Regions from separate parts of the Homo sapiens genome. Here region 1 is linked to region 2. Evidence: fine-mapped expression QTL. A gene starts in region 2. The other region holds a variant in brackets. All regions are shown on one strand. Distances are from middle to middle.

Region 1 (4,398 bases), 75 kb after region 2:
CAATTTACTGATAATGTAAGCCATAGATTTAATAATTTTTATGTAGGGTTTCCTTGAGACTTGAAGATTATTATAAGCATTCCTCCAGGGTAAGGAGATTGAGAAATGTTAGGGAGAGTCTAGTTATGAGTCAAAAACCACAACAGTAATTGGAGCAGGAAAAACTTTCAAAAATGGAATTATTAAGAAGTGAAAGATGGTTAACTAAAAGGTATAAAAGGGGATTTCACAAAATACAGGAATGGCAAATACAGGAAACAGCTACCATCCATAGGGTTAAGGGAGAAGATATCTAAGGAGGAAACTAAGAGTTTGGAAGAAGATACTCATCCCATAAGGTCAAGACTCAGATCTTGTTAGAGTGTGGCTACAGTCCAGCCTGGTAGGCAACAGAAAGTTTGCTGGGGTCCTGGTGGGCCAGGAAACTGAGGGTAGGTCTGTTAACATCCTCTGCTAAGAACTGAAGGTCAGGCTTTGGAATTGTCCTGCTGCCACTTGGAGAGATGGCTGAAAGCTTTATTAAGAGAAGAGCAAGGTTTTGGCGGGGAGGGGAAAGAAGAGGTTTTCCTTGCCTTTGCTCAGCCATATAACATTAAAGGATTTTTAAAAATTGTGTTGCTATTCCTCATGAGGATTGGGATGTGCGATAGGCAGAATACTAATCTATCCTTTTCTATGGCACACCAATTTTTTTTTTTTTTTTTGCCTAACTCCTACCAGTACTGTCTATATTATAACACAGCTCCAGCACAATGAAAAAAAAAAAAAATAAAACAATACATCTCTCTCTGTCTATTCCTCTTCAAAGGAATAAATACAATATAAAAATCTATAAAAAGATATATTAAAATATACAATACCATATTATAATAGAACATAGTAATTTAGCAAATGACTTAGTATTACATCACACAAGAACCCATGAAACAAAAAGGATTTAATGGAAACCTGCCCAGACTGTAAAAACCAGAACAGTAATTCATAAGCAGAAAAGAAAATGTTCAGAGGAAAAGCTGTTGGCATTTGAAAGACTAATGCAGCTCTTAATGCAAATTAATAATGAATGCAGTTAGTTTGTGACACCATGTAAAATAGTGACAAGTGATGGTGTAAAACAATCTGAGTTTATATATCTTGTTTGTGATTTCCATTATTTCAGGATCAGGAGTAAAAACAGTGTTTTTGAATATAGAGACAATTCTCGATTATCTATAATCATACAGTTTCTGGATTATCAAGGTCCTTAAATTTTCCTTGGTTTTGCTAACCATCTTTTTTTTATATATATATACTTTAAGTTCTAGGGTACGTGTACACAATGTGCAGGTTTCTTACATATGTATACATGTGCCATATTGGTGTGCTGCACCCATTAACTCTTCATTTGCATTAGGTATATCTCCTAATGCTATCCCTCCCCCCTTCCCCCACCCCACGACAGGCCCCAGTGTGTGCTGTTCCCCTTCCTGTGTCCAAGTGTTCTCATTGTTCCATTCCCACCTATGAGTGAGAACATGTGGTGTTTGGTTTTTTGTCCTCGCGATAATTTGCTGAGAATGATGGTTTCCAGCTTCATCCATGTCCCTACAAAGGACATGAACTCATCCTCTTTTATGGCTGCATAGTATTCCATGGTGTATATGTGCCACATTTTCTTTTTTTTTTTTTTTTTTTGAGACGGAGTCTCGCTCTGTCGCCCAGGCTGGAGTGCAGTGGCGGGATCTCGGCTCACTGCAAGCTCCGCCTCCCGGGTTCACGCCATTCTCCTGCCTCAGCCTCCCAAGTAGCTGGGACTACAGGCACCTGCCACTACGCCCGGCTAATTTTTTGTATTTTTAGTAGAGACGGGGTTTCACCGTTTTAGCCGGGATGGTCTCGATCTCCTGACCTCGTGATCCGCCCGCCTCGGCCTCCCAAAGTGCTGGGATTACAGGCGTGAGCCACCGCGCCCGGCCGCCACATTTTCTTAATCCAGTCTATCACTGGTGGACATTTGGGTTGGTTCCAAGTCTTTGCTATTGTGAATAGTGCACACGTATGTTTATTGTAGACCATCTTTTCACTGTTTATTACCACTCTCGCCAGAAGATGGAGATCAAAGTAAAGAGGTTGTGAAGTCCAAATGACTCAAATGTCACCATCAGTGAAAGTGGCTTTTCTCAGCATTAGTTGGTGCTGGGAGAGAAAGGGAGGTTGGTGCTGGGAGAGAAAGGGAGGAACAGAAGATGTTGAAATAAATTCCCTGGCCGGGCATGGAGGCTCATGCCTGTAATCCCAGCACTTTGGGAAGCTGAGGTGGGCA[T/G]ATCACGAAGTCAGGAGTTCGAGAGCAGCCTGGCCAACATAGTGAAACCCTATCTCTACTAAAAATGCAGCCTGGCCAACATAGTGAAACCCCATCTCTACTAAAAATGCCAAAAATTAGCCGGGCATGGCAGCACCCACCTGTAATCCCAGCTACTCAGGAGGCTGAGGCAGGAGAATCGCTTGAACCAGGGAGGTGGGGGTTGCAGTGAGCCAAGATCGTGCCACTGCACTCCAACCCAGGCAACAGTGCAAGACTCCAACTCAAAAAAAAAAAAAAGAGAAAGAAAGAAAGAAAAAAGGAGAGAGAGAAAGAAAGAAAGAAAGAAAGAAAGAAAGAAAGAAAGAAAGAAAGAAAGAAAGAAATGCCCTGCTCTGCCTAGTGCCCTTTTCTTTTGCCTCTTCTTCCCCCACCACGTTTGCCTCTCCCTCATCCTTCCTGTCTTTCATCCTTTAGTACCCTTCAATTCTACATGAAACAATCTTGGTCCAGGATTGATAATTAGAAAAAAACAGCTGAAGACTTCCCTACCTGGAAGAAGGATAAGGTCCCTAGGTTCTGTAGTGGGTGAGCTGCGGGCCTGGGTTCTTCCTTCAGACGTTACAGATGCTTCTGCTTGGTCTGGGGAACAGCAACGCAGCAAACCAGTAATGTGAAGCTACAAAGAAAAAAATAATCATTACATAGGAGGAAACAAGTACTGAAAAACAATCCATCATCTTGCTGTACCAGTGAAGACTCCAGACTGCAGCAATCGTCCTACACTTGAGACTTCCTCTAAATATAGAAAAGTACAGACTGATGTTCCAGAGGGAACCTTAGGGCTTATCTTGGAGCTGAGACTCCAGGTGGAGATTGCCAATCACTGCCACCTAACCCTCCGGCTACATTGTCTGTCTCATATGTCTCACTTGTTTGGGAAACTCTCATCTCAGTCAGAGGGTAGTGGCAGGAGATGAAATAAATAAAGCCCCAAATCTTGACCTTGACTCATGAACACATTAAACCCTTTTGGGACTCTTAATTTGTTCTCATGTGGCCCCAGCAATGGGCCAAACACCTTTAATCTTGTAAGGCAGGTGTGTTTCACTCACATCAGTTTCTCTGTTCTCTACCTTCCTCAGTTCTATTTCTGTTTTTTTTTTTCTGAGATGGAGTCTCGCTCTGTCACCCAGGCTGGAGTGCAATGGTGCGATCTCCACTACTGCAACCTCCGCCTCCTGGGTTCAAGTGATTCTCCTGCCTCAGCCTGCCAAATAGCTGGGACTACAGGCCCATGCCACCACGCCCAGTTAATTTTTGTATTTTTAGTGGAGACGGGGTTTCACCATGTTGGCCAGGGTGGTCTCAATCTCCTGACCTCGTGATCCGCCCACTTCGGCCTCCCAAAGTGCTGGGATTACAGGCATGAGCCACTGCGCCCGGCCCCTCAGTTCTATTTCTAATTGTCTTTCCTCCTTAAGACATAATGCCCTTTGTTAAAGTCCATCTTCTGGTTTTTCCATTTTCTCCTACTGGTTGTCATCCCCTCTCCATCCACTAGCCTCCTGTTGCTGCCTGAAAAATAGACAACCATTTAACAAACATTTGTTAAGAGCTTAATAATGTTCCAGACACTATTCCAGGCACTGGAAATACAGCGGTGAACAAATCAAAATCAAACTCGTCCTTATTTTAGACAGGGGAATCTAATTTAAAAAATGAATTATATACTATGTCCAAGGTGATACAGAGTGAAATGAAAGCAAAGTAAGGGGTGCAGAGGATACCAGGGAAGTAAGGAATGGCTAATTTATATAAATGTGATCAAGAGAACTTCATCAATTAAGGACATTTGGGCAAACACTTGAAAGAAATGAAAAGTTGTCTGGGTGTGGTGGCTCATGCCTGTAATCCTAGCACTTTGGGAGGCCAAGGCGGGCAGATCACCTGAGATCAGCAGTTCAAGACCAGCCTGGCCAACATGGTGAAACCTTGTCTCTTATTAAAAATACAAAAATTAGCTGGGCGTGGTGGCGGGCACCTGTAATCCCAGCTACTATGGAGGCTGAGGCAGGGAGAATCTCTTGACTTTGGGAGGCGGAGGTTGCAGTGAG
Region 2 (4,398 bases):
TTTTCTGTCTACCGACAGCCACACTGCTCCTTGGCCATAAATTCCCACTTGTCCATGCTGGATTCAGAGTTGAGTCCAGTCTCTTTTCTGTGCCGCAAGAGCTCATTGCAGTGGTCCCTGTACCTTTGTGATGATCCTGAATAAAGTCTTCCCAACCATAATTTAACAAGTGACATTGAGTAATTTTTTTCTTTAACAAGAGACATTTGGATTTTAATTTCTGTTACAGGTATAATAAAAGGTTCAGTGGTCCCTACTTTACAAAGAGGAACATACATAAAGATAGGAGGTTTCTAGTGATTTCTGTTCAGGATTGCTTTCTAAACTGGGCATAAACAAGTTCCTTCAGCTAGGTCTCTTTGATACTGTGGCCTGGAATTTGTTTTTCTTTTTCTTTTTTTTTTTTTTTTTGAGATGGAGTTTTGCTCTTGTTGCCCAGGCTGGAGTGCAATGGCACAATCTCAGCTCACTGCAACCTCCACCACCCGGGTTCAAGTGATTCTCCTGCCTCAGCCTCCCAAATAGCTGGGATTACAAGCATACGCCACCACACCTGGCTAATTTTGTATTTTTAGTAGAGACGGGGTTTCTTCGTGTTGGTCAGGCTGGTCTCGAACTCCCGACCTCAGGTGATTCACCTGCCTCCGCTTCCCAAAGTGCTGGGATTACAGGAGTGAGCCACTGTGCCCAGCCACTCTTTTTTCTTTTTTTTGGACAGAGTCTCACTCTATTGCCCAGGCTGGAGTGCAGTGGTGCAATCTCAGCTCACTGCAGCCTCTGCCTCCTGGGTTCAAGTGATTCTCCTGTCTCAGCCTCTCAAGTAGCCAGTATTACAGGCACACGCCACCACACCAGGTTAATTTTTGTATTTTTGGTAGAGATGGGGTTTTGCCGTGTTGGCCAGGCTGGTCTCAAACTCCTGACCTCAAGTGATTCACCTGCCTCAGCCTCCCAAAGTGTTGGGATTACAGGCATGAGCCACCATGCCCAGCCTGGAATTTCATGTTTAACTTAGACTCTGGAAATTCCAAATGAGTTTTAACACAAACAAATTATTTGAGAAATTCAGGTCTCTGTTTCTTTACCTATGAAATGGTGACTGCTTATGCTTGCCTTGATAGACTACTAGGATGAAAGGAAATGACGAATATTGAAGTCCTTCACAAATCTAACAAAATGTGAAATATGATTGTATTTATAGTTTACGTATTGCAAGCAGATGCTGCAGAATAAGTGTTTCAGATTGAAATTTCTTGAAGAACCCCTAGCCTTTTCCATACCAAATAAACAGATCTCTGGAGGACAGGACCTCTGACATTTGTACCTTCTTTCCATCCCTCTGTACCCCTGTACTTCCTGCAGCCCTTCCCTTCACCACCACCATGTCCCTCCTGCTGCTGCAGAGTCTGCTTGCAGGGCCTTTACACCAGGGAGAGCAGGCAGATGGAGGAGCATGGACAGATACATTCCTCTCCTGGCAGTGTCCATTACTTCTCATTCTACTCATTGAGACTCCAAAGTCAGAGTGAAATACTGAGGGATATGAATTCCTGTACTGTGTGGCAGCCATTGCCACATTCAACATACGATGTCAGATGTGTGCAAGATGAGGCTACTCACGAGACACAGAGGCACAGGACTCCTGGTATCGACTCGCTGTCTCTTAAAAGAAAGTTGCCATCCACCCCTTCCTTGAGCAGCAAGGTCTCACAGTCTTGCTTGGTCAGACGTCCATGGTAGTAAGGCAGATCCATGGAGAACGCTCTTGTATCCCAGGAAGCCCTGTTGGCCTGAAATTCACCCCCAAGTCAAGGGACAGCTCTGAGGAGAGATGTGTAAGCAGCTGTACCTCCTGTGGAGCTACCTCTTCCTCTAGCGGTCTGTGGGACTCAGCCAGCTTCACAAGATTCAGGAAATGAGGAGGGCGGGGTGATAAAATGACCAACACTTTTCACCCTCTAAATGGCCCACATGTGACTCACAGAAGTAGGTAAAGCACATTTAAACACACAATGGAATCAGTGATGCTCATGGCTAGGGAGGCAATGCTGAAGTCAAGCTTCCTGGAACTGTGTTGCAGCCTTGTATATTACCATGGACTATCATCAACTTCTTTGGCTACTGGTATCCTTTCCAGGAAGCACACCGCTGCTTTTGCTGTAATGGTACCCATTTTCTGCTGAAGTTGCCTAGGATTGGGCTATGCTTAGCTTAGACTGGGTGCTCAAAAACCATTTGGATGCTGAGAGAATTGATATGCTCAGATACAATGGGAAAATTGAAAGGGTGGGATTTCCGTGGATCAAATGACACTAAAAATGGAAGACATTAATGGCAATAAAAAACAGTGGGACACTGTGGATGAGGACAGCCCATTCCATGGCTAAGGCTCCCAGCCACTGGTGAAAAAAGGCCATTTGAACACCCTCAAGCATTGTTCCTTTTGGAGAAAGGGCTGGTGTAGGTGGGAGGGATATCTGGGTATACTCATATATCTACAGAAAATCACTATATATATCTCAAAAATGTTATCTATGAAAATAGAACTATGTGCTAACGATTCATCTTTACTTCTCTTAACTTCTTCTTTTTTTTGTTTTCTTCATCTCCGTAGTACCTGGAGATCTTAACTTCTTCTTAACCTAGATGTTTATTTCACCTTGCTACTTTGCTTACCAGCTGTTTACTCACAGTTGGGTGTATCTTCTATGGAACTTCCTTGTAACAGATCTTTGTTCTTCCTTGGAATTCCCACTCTGCATTTGGCATAGTGCAGTTTCACTGATCAGGGAACTCGTTATCAGACAGATATGCTCTCAAATAGCAACTTTTCTTCTGTGGTTTTGGACAATTCATTATTCAATTCTCTGGAAACTATGGCAGTTGAAGACAGAGTTGTTAATAATGAAAGAAGAAATTTGGTATTTCTTGTGAATAAATTCACAATCGTGGTGTAAAGATGCTTTTTGACATAAGAGAGGAAATAACTGAAAGCATGCTCAGGCTCTTGGTCATCACAGGGGCTTCCTTGCCCTTTTTGCTGTTTCAAAATCCAACCCTCACAATAAAAGAAATGCAAATTACCTGCATGCTGAGATAACAACTCTCACCTATCATATGGGTGAAAATCAAAAGTTTGAAAGCTTATTGGGTTGGTCATGGTGAAAGAAAATAGAATATCTTGTATATCATTAGTTGGAATAAAAAATAGTTACAACTATAGTAAAAGATGGTTTGGCAATATCTTGCAAATTTATGTATGCCTTCACCATCTGATAGAACAATCTCAGTTCTAGAAATCTGTCACAAAACTACACAGGCAGAATTAGAAAATGACTTGTGAATAAGGTAGTATTTTTTAATAGAAAAAGATTACAAACAACTCAAAGACTTGTGAATAGAGGGACAGGTGAATAAACTGTGATTCATGTATACAATGGAATATTACTATAGAATAATAAAATGGGATTGAGGAAGATCTCTATATGCTGATATGCAATAATCTTCAGGATGTATTTTTAGGTGAAAGCAGCAAGATGCACAATAGTATATAGAGTATGGGGGATATAAATAAATATATACATTTATAATATTTGCTCATATTTAAAAAACAAACGAAACACCCACTGGAAGAACAAAACTAAAACTAATTAAAACTAAAAACTTCTGCCTCTAAGAGGAGAGCGGAAACATGCATAGAGGTGAGACTTCTCTCAGTAAAACTTGCTGTAGAGTTGTTGGTTTTTTGTTTTGTTTTGTTTTGAGACAGAATCTCACTCTGTTACCCAGTCTGGAGTGCAGTGGTGTGATCTCGGCTTACTGCAACCTCTGCCTCCCTGGTTCAAGCAATTCTCCCACATCAGCCTCCCAAGTAGCTGGGACTACAGGCACGTGCCACCATGACTAGCTAATTTTTGTATTTTTAGTAGAGACAGGGTTTCACCATGTGGCCCAGGCTGGTCTCAAACTCCTCACTTCAAGTGATCTGCCTGCCTCGGCCTCCCAAAGTGCTGGGATTACAGATGTGACCCACTGCGCCCAGCCTGCTGTGGAGTTTTGAATGTAGAATCATGTAATTGTTTTTTTGTTTTGTTTTGTTTTGTTTTGAGACAGAGTCTCACTCTGTCGCTCAGGCTGGAGTGCAGTGGTGCGATCTCGGCTCACTGCAAGCTCTGCCTCCTGGGTTCATGCCATTCTCTTGCCTCAGCCTCCCGAATAGCTGGGACTACAGGCCCCTGCCACCACGCCCAGCTAATTTTTTGTATTTTTAGTAGAGACGGGGTTTCACCATGTTAGTCAGGATGGTCCCAATCTCCTGACCTCGTGATCCACCCACCTCGGCCTCCCAAAGTGCTGGGATTACAGGCGTGAGCCACAGCGCCCGGCCATAATTGTTTT

Direction of the effects. Alleles are on the strand shown, and positions count from the first base shown. SD is a standard deviation of normalised expression in the study named.
With allele T in place of G in region 1, the expression in skeletal muscle of the gene that starts at base 1,874 in region 2 is lower (small effect, 0.40 SD a copy in GTEx).

Evidence for each region. PIP is the estimated chance that this variant, and not a neighbour inherited with it, causes the effect. A credible set is the group of variants that fine-mapping cannot tell apart.
Region 1: its variant is the best candidate, but not a certain one, in a credible set for the expression of SH2D1B in skeletal muscle (GTEx, PIP 0.79).

What each region holds. Positions count from the first base shown.
Region 1 is chr1:162,485,312-162,489,709 of GRCh38, forward strand. No RefSeq gene overlaps it. Among named protein-coding and RNA genes, the nearest start is that of UHMK1, 10 kb to the right of the region's middle. The variant T/G (reference allele first, on the strand shown) is at 2,303.
Region 2 is chr1:162,410,263-162,414,660 of GRCh38, forward strand. SH2D1B (SH2 domain containing 1B) reads right to left here and starts at 1,874. Exons shown (of 4, transcript NM_053282.5): 1 at 1,621-1,874. The coding sequence starts at 1,754.